Linked DNA regions of Homo sapiens. The protein of the gene in region 2 purifies or fractionates together with the protein of the main gene of each other region. This does not show direct contact. Each region holds a gene or a part of one and is shown on either strand. Other genes may lie near its edges.

Region 1 (7,035 bases), on a different chromosome or scaffold from region 2:
GTCTTTCAAGCTATATTTAATTGACTTCCCTCTATGTGAGGTGCTGTGCTAGATGACTAGGATATGTTTTCTGTCCCTGAACAGCTCATGGTCTTTTGATTCCACTGTTAAGCAAACAGAATGATTTCTGAATTAAAATCATAAATGTGGAATAATTGAATTACTCATGTGTTTTGTTTGAAACATGAACTACTTATTTTCACTTCTTTGGAGGATATTGATGGTAGGAGGTTTCTTTTACATACCTTGCTTCATCTCAGTCTTTGTTTTCCTCTCTGAATAGCATAGGTGTATGCTATTAGAAGTCCATTAACATTTTACTAGTTCTTTTCAAGTTAAGGATCCTGGATTATTACCCATTTATCCATGATAAATTAATTGGGTTACTATCCACTCAGCTAGGCATTGGGGAAATGAAGATTAATGGATAGCAGCTAATATTAATTGAGTGTTTACTTACACTGTTTTGTTCTAAGTATTTTACATGTGTTATCTCATTTACAGGTCCATGAGCTAGATATTATTAGTATTCCTATTTTACAAATTTAGAAACTAAGGCACAAAGAGGTTAAGCAACTTGTCTAAGGTTACATAGCTAGGAAGTGGTAGAGCTGGGATTCCAATCCAGGCAGACTGACTTTAGGGCCATTTCTCTTTTCTACGATGCTATGCCACTTCTCTGTAATATAGAGAAGTGATGAAGACACAGTCCTTAACCTCAAAAAATATACTTCTGACATACATAGTAAATTGTGATTGCAATATATATAGCTCTCAAATAGTCAAATATATTTACAAATCCTAAAGGGATTTGAAGCTTAGGGAAGCATAATGAGCTGCCCATGGTAATCTAATCAATTTGGCGTGTCCAGGATAAAATCCAGTCCACTGTTCTTTTCACCTCAATATGCTGAATTTTGTTTAAAGAAATATCACATGCTGAAAATAAAGTAACGTCTGGGTTGAAGTATTAAAAATTAAATATATAATCTTTCCATCAAATTTAGAAATTAACTTGTATTCTATAATGATAATAGTAAAGACAACCAATTTAAATGCTAGTTCTGCCTTTCCAAAACTAATAACTTTTTAAAAAACTATTTGCTGATCATTTACCTTGTGCCAGCCCTAAGGGATAGGCAGTTTGTGATAATTATTTCTACCATTAACAACAACCCTGAAAGATATTGTTGTTCACATTTAATAGATACAGATAGTGATACTCAAAGAGGTTAAATAATTGCCCCAAAGTCATGTATCCAGTAATTGGTAGTACTGGTACTCAAATCCAAATCTCTCCAACTTCCAGTATACTTTATTTACTGTGTGCCAAATAGTTTCCCAGGAAGTAGATGTTTATTTTCAGAAATGAGAGTTTTTGGCCTTAAACAGGAATTATCTTCTTCAGCTTTTTCTCTATTTTGTTTCGTCTGGTACTCTTGTCTCTCGTTTATTTGCTTAACTCTGTAGCCACAGAAGAAAGGAAACCAGCTGAAGTTCTTATTGTCGAGGGACAACAGTATGCAGTTGTTGGGTGAGTGACACATTTTTCTTTAGTAGTTGAGTCAACTATTTAAAACACAAGTCTTCTAGTTCTCCCTTGAAGTGAATTGGAAATTTTGGATTAACAGTTTTAACAGTGTTAAATTTGGATTAACTGTTTTAAATCCTGCAAAGAACTTAAAGGAAACTTTATGGATTTCTTTATCTTCTCTCTTCTGTAGCATACATTATTAAGGACTGCACTGGCTTAACACAAAAAGCTTGATTTTTCTCATATAACAAGAAATCTAGACAACCCAAGAGTAATTGTAGTGGATCCATGATATTATTGCTATCCCAGGCTCTTTCTATCTTTTCTTCTGTTGCTTTCTTAGAATGTATTATAGCATAATAGTTTAAGTTGTGAACTCTGGAACCCACACAATGTGGAAAATAGTACTATACACAGAATTATTGCGAAAATTAAGTAATTCATGTAAAGCATTTAGCACAGGTCTAGCACCTAATAAGTTGATAGTTGTTGGTAGTTATTCTCATTGGCATCATTTGATTCACTAGATCTTTTACCAATAAAAGTATCTCAAATTCAAGTTAACTAAGAAGCATACAAATTCCATCTTTTTTTGTCTAGTACTATGTCTTTTATTAAATTGGTAATTAAAATATATCTTCATATGCTTTAACAGTACTTCACAGCTTAAGTGTTTTCATATATATGTGATCTCATTTGATCTTTACAACTACATTGTAAAATAAAGATATTGGGGATTATTCTTTCCTTTTTCCACTATGAGAATTGAAGCTTAGAAGATTAAGTGGTTCAAGTGACCCAAATGGAGCCAGAATTCAAATCTAGGTCTAACTGCCAATATCTAGCCCAGCATTCTTTTTCACTTTTCTTCTTGTCAAGTGTTTTTTGAAATGACCACCACCTCCAGGAAGAATGTAATTCTATGTTCCTCAATCATGGCACTTACCGTAGTATAATAGAATTGTTTATTTATGTATATGTCTTCTAATTTGACTCTGAATTCCTCAAAGGTAGAGATGAGGTCTTACCGTTTTTATTTTTCTTGGCACCATAATAAGCACTCAAAAAGTATGTATAGAATTAATCCTTTTTCTGTATCTGTATTCAAATACCTGAAGTCCACACATTCTAAACTAAAGCCTCCATTCTTTTCTCTTCTGAAGTCCTTCCCTGTTTCTGGTAGGGAAAGCTTTCTTCAGTCTTCCTGTAATCCCATCCCTTCAATATAATTATGATTTCCCTCCTTAACTACTGGTTATCTGGTCACTCTTCACTTGCTTGATGGATATGGTCCCCTCTGGCCATCTTGCTTTTGGCTCTTTAGGCAGAGAGTCTGTTGCCAAAAAACTAAATTCCCTGGCTAAAGGGGAACTATTACAACTTCTGAGAGACAATTACAAAAGATAAGCAATGGACTCATGCTCATTTAGGCAGACTCTAGGAGAAATAAGCATAGAGACCAGTATGCATATATGGTCTGACAAGGTGTTATAAAGGCTAGACACCATCTTTCTTGAATCATTAGTTCCTGATATCTTTCAGGCTCTTATAAATCCTTATTTTACGTAGATCTTATTTCTGAGCATGTCATTGAACTTAGATATCCTATGATGAATGGCTTTCTCCTTAATTTCAATCTTCTTTAACTTCCCAGTAGTGTGTCTTTTTAACGTGTGATTTGTCCTTCTATGGAGGTGATAACTTTATCATCTTCGGAAAACTTTTTTTTTTTTTTTTTTTTTTTTTTTGAGACGGAGCTTTGCTCTTGTTGCCCAGGCTGGAGTGCCATGGCATGATCTCAGCTCACCACAACCTCCGGCTCCCAGGTTCAAACGATTCTCCTGCCTCAGCCTCCCCAGTAGCTGGGATTACAGATGTGCAGCACCACGCCCAGCTAATTTTGAATTTTTAATAGAGACAGGGTTTCTCCACTGTCAGGCTGGTCTTCTCCATTGTCAGGCTGGTCTCGAACTCCCGACCTCCAGTGATCTGCCTGCCTTGACCTCCCAAAGTGCTGGGATTACAGGTGTGAGCCACCGCGCCCAGCCAGAGAACCTTTTGTGACCTACCAATAAAATTCTTAGGAGACATGTTTTCCTTAGAAGCCATTATAGATTTTTTTTTTTTCCATCTCACTAAGAAAATCTGGACTAGGTTTTCTTCATCAATTCATTAGTTATGATGGAGGACCTACTATGTTGGTAATCAGAAACACTGGATAGGCTTTTTGTCAGTGTTTCTGAATTGGCTAATGAATGCAATACCTGTCTTACTGAAGCGACTCCCTTACTTAATAAGAATGCCATACAGAGAGTATTATGCCTGTTGTACAGAATTTAAGGAGCCACTCATTCTCAGTGTTGTGCAAGCTGATCCTGCAATTGCACAGAGTAAGAGCCTCTTTAAATTTTGCATTCTAGACACCTCTCTTGTCTTGTGTTAGTCAAGAACCTGCTGTACTAGTAGGTAAAATGCATACTTTAACATAGTTACCAAGGTCATTATATTCTCAGAGATCCTTTGTGCCATTAAGTAATTTGATTTTTATATGCCAAATCCTTTTGATTTTTCTTGTTTTGATTTCCTATTGGGCCATTTTTCTTTTCTTGTAGAACCGTATTGCTGTTAATAAGAATTATCCTTGAATATTGCCAGTGTGTGGATAACATCCCATCTGTTACTACTGACATGCTTACTCGTCTGTCAGATTTATTGAAGGTATGTATGACTTCACTCCATTATGGAAAAATTTTTCGAGGAATTAATACATTAGGGTGTGACTAATCTTAACTCAAAGACATTTCAAGGTCAAATTAACTTTAAGACATTAGTTTTATAACATTTGATTGTGGTTGAATCACAACATGTTATTGGAAACAGGCTGCCTGCTTCCTTCTTACTCCACAGTTAGTGATCCTCATTCACCCATAGAGTTGTTAATGACATTGGAGACAGGAGATGATTTGTTCGTTAGGTGCTGAACATGACTGAGGCCACTTAGGTCAAAAAACCTGGACTGGCTTCAAATGTGCATGGAAGGAATTCACTGAACTTTACAAAATTCATCTCACTAAGGTTAGAGATTTTTCTTGCATCATTCTTTCAGAACCATTGATATAAAATGAAAATGTGATGATTTTATTCAGCCATTTCATATTGAGATATTTTAAACTACCAGTACGGAGGAAATGCTTTATTATTTTTTTCAAACCTCTAATCTGTTAATTATGTTCTGACTTGAGTTGTCATGTTTTAGCCAAGACAGATTTTTATAACTTTTGAAAATAGGACTTCCCAACAAGAATGACTGAAACCGAATTTGTTTTGTACATGCAAATTAAAGATTAATTTCTGCGAACTGATTTTTAGAATTTTTCAACTTTTTTCTTATCAGTAAATATTATCATTTAGAATCTCCCCTTCTCATTTCTTTTTCATTAAATAAATAGATACTAATTGCTTCTACTAGATAATTCATTTGGCCATTGAATGAGAGGAAAGGGGAATGTATTTTTATAATAGCACATTGCCAGGATATAAAGAACAGTTTTTAGTAAATTTTGGGGTTTTTTTCTCCTTCTTTTGTTAGTACTTCAATTCAAGAAGTTGCCAGTTAGTTCTTGGAGCTGGTGCACTGCAAGTTGTTGGACTAAAAACGATAACTACAAAAAATTTGGGTATGGATTCTTGCGTTTAATTCACTTGCTGAAGTGTTAACAGTGATGTCACTGTTCTCATCATGTTTTTTTATACCTCATGTTTTCATGGCTCTAACCAAAGTGGCATTACTCTAAAAATAAATGCTACTTACTCTTTTATGTATACTCATCACTGAAAAAAACTAACCATGGGGAAAAGGTTACGATGCATTTCCCCTCCAAGTATAAGTTACTTGGAAGTTACACCACTCTAGAAAATATTAAGATATAATGTGTATAAAGTATTTGGGGGTGAAAGCTATCTGAATGTCATAAGAGAATCAGTTGTCTTGTTATTGTGATACTGATAATACTCACAACTTGAGTCCTTTGTGAAAGCAGCATGTTCATTACATTATTCAGTATCAAATTATTAGACAAAATGAAATATGTTGCCTTCTGCCATAGGGCTCTTCGTTTATGAAATAAACTGGTTCTTTATAAGTGATGTTTTTTATTTGATTTGATTTGTAATTAAAATCAACTAATACCTTTTTTTTTTTTATTTCTCCATTATATATCTACTCCCTGGATCTTCAGCTCTTTCTTCACGATGTTTGCAGTTAATTGTGCACTACATTCCTGTGATCCGGGCTCATTTTGAAGCTCGACTACCACCTAAGCAATATAGCATGCTTAGGCATTTTGATCATATCACTAAGGTACTTTTTCATATATTTTCTATTGGCGTTTCATAAGTTTAGATCCTTAATTGTTAAGTATTTTAAAAATGTGTCCCAGGGACTTAAAAATACAATTATCATTTCTCATTGCAGGACTACCATGATCACATAGCTGAAATATCAGCTAAGCTTGTAGCGATAATGGATAGCTTATTTGACAAGCTGTTATCTAAGGTAATGATTTATAGAAATTATTAGACTTTGTTCAAAGACATTATGATTTTCTATTTTATAAGGAGTACTTTATAAATTAAGATGTGAAAAGATAATCTAAACTTTCATAGGATATTTACCAATTAGTAGAATTTTAAATTTTTTTTCAGGAAAATGTGACCATGTGCTGTGACCAAGACCCCCCATAGTGGTCTAACCTGCAGTTATCTAACAAATTATTCAGGGTTTAGAAAACAACTCAACAAAATTTTCGGATTTCCAAAACAGTTGATATTCTAAGGGGCTGGCAGGAGTAGGAGAGATGATTCTAAGGATGGTAGAAATCCTATGCAGAAGTATTTTTATGTTAATTCATTTCAACATTCATTTCTTGTTTGTTTTTCATTCCCAATATGTCATTAAATGAAGCAGTGTTCCCCAAAGAATTCGCAGTTATACTGGGAGAGTATCTTCAGAAAAATATCATTTAGTCAGCCCCAATCACGCTTGATCTATCTTTCACTGTTTACTTTCCCTAAGTTTTTCAATTCACGTCTTAGTGGGAAAGCCAAAATTTCGTAACTTGAAAGTCTGAAAGTTTACTCAGTGTATACTGTCTGTCCAAGATCATATTTGGAATAACCTTAATAGCAAAGAACTTTGATTTGCTTTTTATCCTACTTGCATCCTTCAGATTCCGAAATGGCAGGAACAGCAGGTACATAAGAATCAAAAGGGCAAGATAAAGTGGTGTCCATTCACTCACACACAAGACTACCCAAACACATATTCTATTAGCCTTCAGAATAATGATATCACAAGTCATCTAAAAATCCCCACTGTTCAATCATGAGAGAATGAGAGTAAAATAGATAAATAGCATCTTATTAATAATATTATTATGAAAGCGGCTTTTACTTCCCAGATTCCTGGAAAGGGTCTCTGACTTCTGGGAATCCCCAGACTA
Region 2 (7,035 bases):
CAAATATTTTCCACAATAAGAAAAAATCTGTAGAAAGCTGCACCAGTCTTAACATTTACAAAGATTATACCAGACTATTAATAATTCTCATCATTAATCATTGTCAGAAGCTAAATATCATTTTGTTAACCACTAATCCGAATCAAAATTATTCCAAAAAGAAATATATATATAATATATATATATGTATATATATGGAAATCCCCCCCACCCTGTACTTCTATGTGCTTTGAGCACAACTTGTATTCATCAATTCATCTTCAGATCTAGTTTTTTATTACAAAAGACAACTATGCTTACAAGGTGAATTGAATTACAAGCCTTTTACTACTTTTTGGTGAGTTAAGAAAAAGCTATTTAATCTAACAAAGTTTCACTTTAGCACTCAGCTAAATAGAAATTTCGAAATTTTATTTAAAGATATGATAAAATACCATATGGCCCTGGTTTCAAGAGAAATTCATTTAATAAGTTGTGTAAATGAGTTTATTAGTTAAAGTGAACTTACAAAATCTCTGTTGGTTTTATAAACCAAAGCAAACTAGTTCATTTGAATTGCTATGTGCCCCCCTAGCATTTTTAAATGCAAGACAATGTATTTGTAGAAATGATCATTCTTTCTCAGGGAATGCTAATTTACCATGCTCCCATGGTAAATTCTACAGGAAACTTTCATGGAAAATGTCAAAGTTAAGGAAAGTTTAGACTCAAAAATAATAAATTTTTGGTAATGATAGTTTTTGGAACACGTATAATTCCATTTACATTCTCAGCTTTTCAATTGTATTTATCTGAAAATTAGTTTCATAAAATGTTACATGGTTATAACTCAATATTACTGTATAAAGTATTTGAGAAATGTCTGGTAACTCTCTTGTGATTAGGTAACTTCATGACTCAAACCTCCTGTTACTGTTTTGATGCTAGCTAGCACTTATTAAGCTACCTTTTAATGAAAAAAAAAAAAAAAAAAAACCTTTTTCAAAAAGCATTAAAAAGATCCACCATTTCATTTTGAAGATGGAGAAAGCAAAGTAAGGGTAGGTTAAAAGGTCTGTCAGATTGCATGGTCGAGTCTCTAACAAGATAAGTAATTCTTTTGTATCAATTCCTATTACCTTGGAAAACACTGGGCTCTACCAGGCAGGTGATTCCTGTTCATATTATCTAGGGCCAACTAAAGTAGAAATTAAAGGAAACCAACTATAAAATCCATGTAGAAGAGAAAAATAAGCAGCTCTTCATCAACTGCAAATTTTAAAAGATTGATTAGCTCTTTATGTGCCCAGCTAAATATGCCATTTAAACTCAAGGACCAAGCTTATCTCATGTTTGTTTTCTTCAAGTGGCTGCATATAAATAATGGCTACAGGCAGAATCTACTTCACAAGTATATAATCTAGCCACAACCAAATCATAATGGCACCAAACTCATACCTTTTTACAAGAGGAAAGTTTTAAATTGACAGTAAATGAACTCCGACATGAGAGGATGAAAAGAAAACACTCAGCATACAGACACACACAAACATATTCTGAAAGTGCTTCACATTACACTGTGCATTTACAGACATCGCAGGGACTGATGGACACAGAGTAGCAATTGTTTCCTTATCACCTCCATGCTTGATCACATGCCATTCTGTGCCATCCATTTTATCACCTTAGGTCCCAGAAGACTCATAAGACCCAAGGCCTGTTTCTCACATGATTCCTTAGGATTCTGTGAGCTGTTGATGTTACAGGTCATGCATGGCAATCATTGGACCAATGCCACACAAGCTTAGATGTCCTCCACTCTCCAGTCAGAAAGAACACACACAAAATTCCTTATCAGACAGTTGGCAAGAGTACATGGAAAATGGATTTTTATGTCACATACATTAGGAGAAGATCCCTGGCTTCAGGGCAAAGTTTAGAGGAACAGCACATACTTACTGAAGACTAAGTGGATTCCAGAGTTCATCATTGGCTAGACTGATACTATTTTACATTTGTGTTATAAAAGGTGGATATTTAAGAAGAGTGAACATATGACCGTACATTTATGAGTGACTAGCAGACAACTGTTTCCTGAGTCAGTCAACCTGGGTTTTACTGTCCTAAGACAAAATCTGAATTTAAAGAGACCAAAACTTTCAACAAAAAAACCACATATTTTTATAAAGAAAGATAAAAGAAAGTCTCATAATCATGATTCTGTATGCTACTCAGGCATTGAAAAGGTACCCTCAATGAAATTACTTTTCACCATTGGTTTCAGGATATAAAACAATTAAAATTAGAACACACTAAAAGCTGCACTATAGTTCATGACATCTGCATGCCACACAAAAAATCAAAATGTAGTCTCACATAGGCTGATCATACTAGAGTATATTTATTAAATTTCACCATTATGATCACTTTGTTATAACTAAATTAACCCTGACATAAACTTTGACATTTTAAAAACAGAGAACATACTGATTTTTCAACTATTTTACTTACATGTGTTTTTTAATTCTCATGCAGTGCTCATAATTAGGAGATACTACATATTCACCCTCACATTATGCTTATTAAGAACCAAGCTCAGAGGGTAGAAAAGTGCCAACTTCATTTTCCATAAACTTCCCATACATATATTAAGCCACTGTTCTTCTAATTATATACTTATGGTACATTCTTCTGTAAAATGTATAACTGTAGTCACATAACCATTGTTATGACAAGGCGGCAACATCATTTCAGATTACAACAAATGAGACCAAAAGTTGAAGAGACCACAGCATATAAAAGTCATGAGAACACCACACACATTTCAATATTTTCCACTTTCCAGTCAAAAAAACATGCACAAAGTTTTCTTAGCAGATAGTTGTCAGAAGTGCATAAAAAAACTGGCTTTCAGGTCATATATGTTGAGTGAGGATCAATGCCATTGAGGAAAGAGAGCTGTGTTCATTATCTTTTAGGTCTGTCTATATCATCTATAGCTGCTAGAAGTTTTTGTCTTGCTTTCTTATTGATATGGGATCCCAGGCAAACATTCACCAGATTGGTCAGCTGCTTCGTTGAATATTCCTGCTCAAAGAAGAAAGATCCAAATTTAGTACCCTAAAAGGAATGTATCTGATCAGTGCAACAAAAGAACAGGCGGATATTCAGGTGCAGTGGATAGTTACTGAGCATTATAAACCAGTGAAAAACAGTGGAAATTACAGTTGGGACATGGAAGGCAAATTGTTTACTGAGCTGTAATAGGAGAGAATAAGAATACTATAGTACACATTTGAAACAGTAAGCACTAGAATCTGTTTTAATATGGCAAAGCAATCTGACATGCGTATGCTTCTTACTGCTTTGATGATCACACACTTTACACTTGTTTCTGTAATAGTCTTTGTTATTGAGTCATCAAAATACACTGACATTTCAAATTTTTTAAATGCTACTGATGAAGTATTTTTCTGGCCCTCTACATTTTGTAAACACTTTAGTTAAAAAAAAAATCTCCAACAACAGAAGAACAACTCTTCTAAGATACAACAAATGAATAAGGTAACAAGGATCACAAAGTCAGGGAGCTGCAAATAAAATTAAGACTACGAGTATCTTTCGCAATCCAAATCCATCTGGTTCCTGAATTTTAGATACTGAATTGCTAGGATGAGAATAAACAGGGATTCATCAGAAATTTCTGCAGATTGACTTGGTACTGGAGGTTGAATAGCAAGAGTTCAGATAGGGAAAGACAGCTGTGTACTATTATCTAATAAGAAAAGAAAATGTGTCTTTATTGAAGGTAACCACTAAATATAGTACAATTTCAAAATAGGAGAAAGAATTGATTTTAAAAACTTGGCAAACTGCTCAGCTTGTGTATCTGATCTCTGAGAGCACCTGTCCCCGCCTGGTAAGTAATCTCATTTAACCACTCAGCATTCAGTGAGGATCCATCGTCAGTGATCGCTGGACTCATCATTGTGGGAAGTTTCCTTCAAAGACAGAAAAGAGTCCCTGCTGCTGCTGGGGAAATGTCACTGAATTACAAATATCAATCAGTTAAAGCTCTTTCAAAGTACTAAGTTAAAAAAAAATCAGTCTACTATATTAAAAGAGGAAATTCAAAAAACGGGCATCATTCTTGCATCGAATAGAGCTGTGCCTTTCCTCCTTGGCTACTTTGTATTCTTTCCCAAAACCCTTTCCTCAGTACCAACCCAGAAGTGTTTACAGCTTACTTTACTAAATGGATTCTAGCAACATTAAGCAGTCTATCTGCATCTAGGTTTAACATTTTGGTTATCAAATGTCAGTGGGGCTAAACGTGGTGAAGTTTTTCTCAATCTGGCTTTACTGGTCGAACTCATTAAAAATAACACATACATTCCTACTTTGCTTCTAAAGATCCGAAACTGAGTAAGAGTGGGGACATTCACACAAGATTCACGCCAATGTGAATGTTCTAGGCTAATGCATTTTATCTCTTTACAGTGTTAAGGCCAGAAAGGATGAGTCTGAGCAGGTATATACAAATAATTATTTTCTTACCCAAATGAAATAAAACTTGACTTAGCTTTTACCCATGACATTCATAGGTTAAGAAAATGTAAATCCTAGAGTTATCAAAGCAATGAGGATTTGGTGATAATTTTAACACATGCCATATACAGAAAAGCTTCCCATACCAAGCTCACTGAGTTGAACTGTGTCAAAAATTCGGCATCCTACGTAACAATAGTATTTTTCGTTATCTATATAGTCATACAAAAGAAAAATAATCAAATCTATATTAAAGGTAAAATCTAATGTAAGATGTAAGTTAAGTTTAGCCATTTAAATATTAATGTCTTCACTCATCACTAATACGTGTCAGTGTGTAGGATGTTACCATTTCATCGTTGAGGAGTACGAGAAGGTTTGTATGAGAAGGTTTAAGTTACATAATCGATTATGGCTTATGAATCATTTCATTGTTTCTGTATTCAATCTGTCTCAGTATTTATCAACTTCAGCCTTTTCCTATAACACAGTTGCAGGAAAAATATAGCTAATGTCTTGGCTTTGGCTGTATTTCTAGATCATTACAGTAACAGTTCACAAAGGGCTGAAAAAGATTTGATGAGTCAAAGGGCACTGCTTAGATACGGTGCCCTTAATCTGAATAAGGCAAAGAATTGACCTAAGTAGTTTGTATTAAAAAAGCAAATGTTTCTTTATATTTCACTCTCATGATTTTGAATTAAATAACACACCCAACAAGAACAGCACAAAGAAAAAGGAATAAAAACTTAATTAACTATTTTCCAGCTCTCACCCTGTGCTCTTTGATCCACCGTTCCATGTCATTCTCAGTTAGGTAATAAGCTTTAATATAAGTTTCTACAAATTCTTTATCAGGAATGGGTCTAATATCTGTTAGTTTTTCAAGTTTCATTAAAAACTGTTGAAAATCCAATTGCATCAGGGCACGACCCTCATTACTGCATTTCTTGACATTGGCATATCTAAGATGCAAAACAATAAAAAAAAATACATTATAGGATAATTAGAAACAAAAAACTGTCAGGTATTTGAAGTTTTCTCTAACCTATATTTGGACAGATTCCCCAGAAATGAGAGGGTTATAGGAAATAGAGAACATAAGCCTTGAGTCAGAAAGACTGGGTTGTGTTTGTGCTCTGTCATTTTACCTATGCGGGCCTCAGTTTTCTCATTTGCAAAGAGATCCAATGAGTTCAAGTCTCTTTGTTGTTCTACAGACCACGGATCTCTGTATTCAATCAACATAATTGTCTGTAAGAAAGTTAAACTGGTATTCCAGTTAATCTGGCTGCCAAGAGTTACTTTATAAAAACTAAGCTTTGAATACTTCAAAGTAATCTTAGTTTTATAAAACTGTTCAATATTCAATGCAATGCAAAAGAAACAAATGAAATAATTCTCCCATGAACACTCTGAAAACATAAAGAAATGTGTAAGCATGTAAGCATAGAAAGTATATATATATTTTTCATGATAAAAAGCTTATAGACCTATTCTGATATTCTACACTACTGAAACAGTGTGTTTTAAGGTGGACTAAGTAATAAAGACAAATATACAAACCCTAACAATACAACACTTTATTGCTCATTAAGTCAATGTTTCATTTCTTCAATCAATCATACAGAACATGGAAAATTCAACTGTGGGAATGAGGTACTTACCTTAAGGAAAGTTGCAAGAAAATAAAAGCTTATTTTATTTAAAATGACCAAGCTTTTTTTTTTTTTTTTAAAAAAGAGTATTTTATACAGAAGTATTACATATATTATTCACATTTCGACTTAAACAAATTTATTTAAAATACTCTTCATTCGTGATTGCTGACACAGCCTTTTTATAATTTATAGCACTGCTGGTTTCAATACAGAGTGCCACGACTGTTGTCAGCTTGTCACTGTCATCTTCCCACTTTCTAATACATTATTTTGTATAACAAATGAGAACAAAAGAAAAATCAGACAAATGATAGTGTGAATATTCAACTGATGTGCAATTCTAGAGCACTGTACAGGGTCTTTGAAATAGCTGTTCGCTTCTCAGGGATATTTCAGATGTATTACTGATCCTTATTTGTATCCTAGATGTTATGGGCAGAGTAAGCATGGTCTCTGAGTAAGTGGGAAAATTACTATTAATAGATCCATAACTTCAACACATGAAAGATTTATAGAGTTTACAGTGATATGATGGTGATTATTATTAATGATGATATAAGGGTTACGAGGGCTGATTTTACCACCAGAAATCAGGAGTATAACCAGGCATGGTGGCTCACGCCTGTAATCCCAGTACTTTGGGAGGCTTAGGTGGGCGGATCAACTTGAGGCCAGGAGATCAAGAACAGCTTGGCCAACATGGTGAAACCCCATCTCTACTAAAAATACAAAAAATTAGTGGGCATGGTGGCACACACCTGTAGTTTCAGCTGCTCAGGAGGCTGAGGCACAAGAATTGCTTGAGCCCAGGAGGGAGAGGCTGCAGTGAGCCCAGATTGCACCACTG

The links. Proteins that work in one complex are often made in the same cells at the same time.
Region 1: the proteins of VPS50 (region 2) and VPS54 purify together in Homo sapiens (affinity purification with mass spectrometry; 3 studies listed by BioGRID and IntAct, with this or other methods). This does not show direct contact.

Annotation. Positions count from the first base shown.
Region 1 is NC_000002.12:63,911,399-63,918,433, reverse strand, and holds part of VPS54 (vacuolar protein sorting-associated protein 54), read left to right. Parts: intron 1-1,470; coding exon 1,471-1,534; intron 1,535-4,146; coding exon 4,147-4,252; intron 4,253-4,508; exon of another isoform or gene 4,509-4,609; intron 4,610-5,123; coding exon 5,124-5,211; intron 5,212-5,772; coding exon 5,773-5,894; intron 5,895-6,008; coding exon 6,009-6,089; intron 6,090-7,035. UniProt on the Homo sapiens protein: Acts as a component of the GARP complex that is involved in retrograde transport from early and late endosomes to the trans-Golgi network (TGN).
Region 2 is NC_000007.14:93,354,348-93,361,382, reverse strand, and holds the end of VPS50 (syndetin), read right to left. Parts: intron 5,493-7,035; coding exon 5,303-5,492; intron 3,067-5,302; coding exon 2,947-3,066; 3' UTR 260-2,946; downstream 1-259.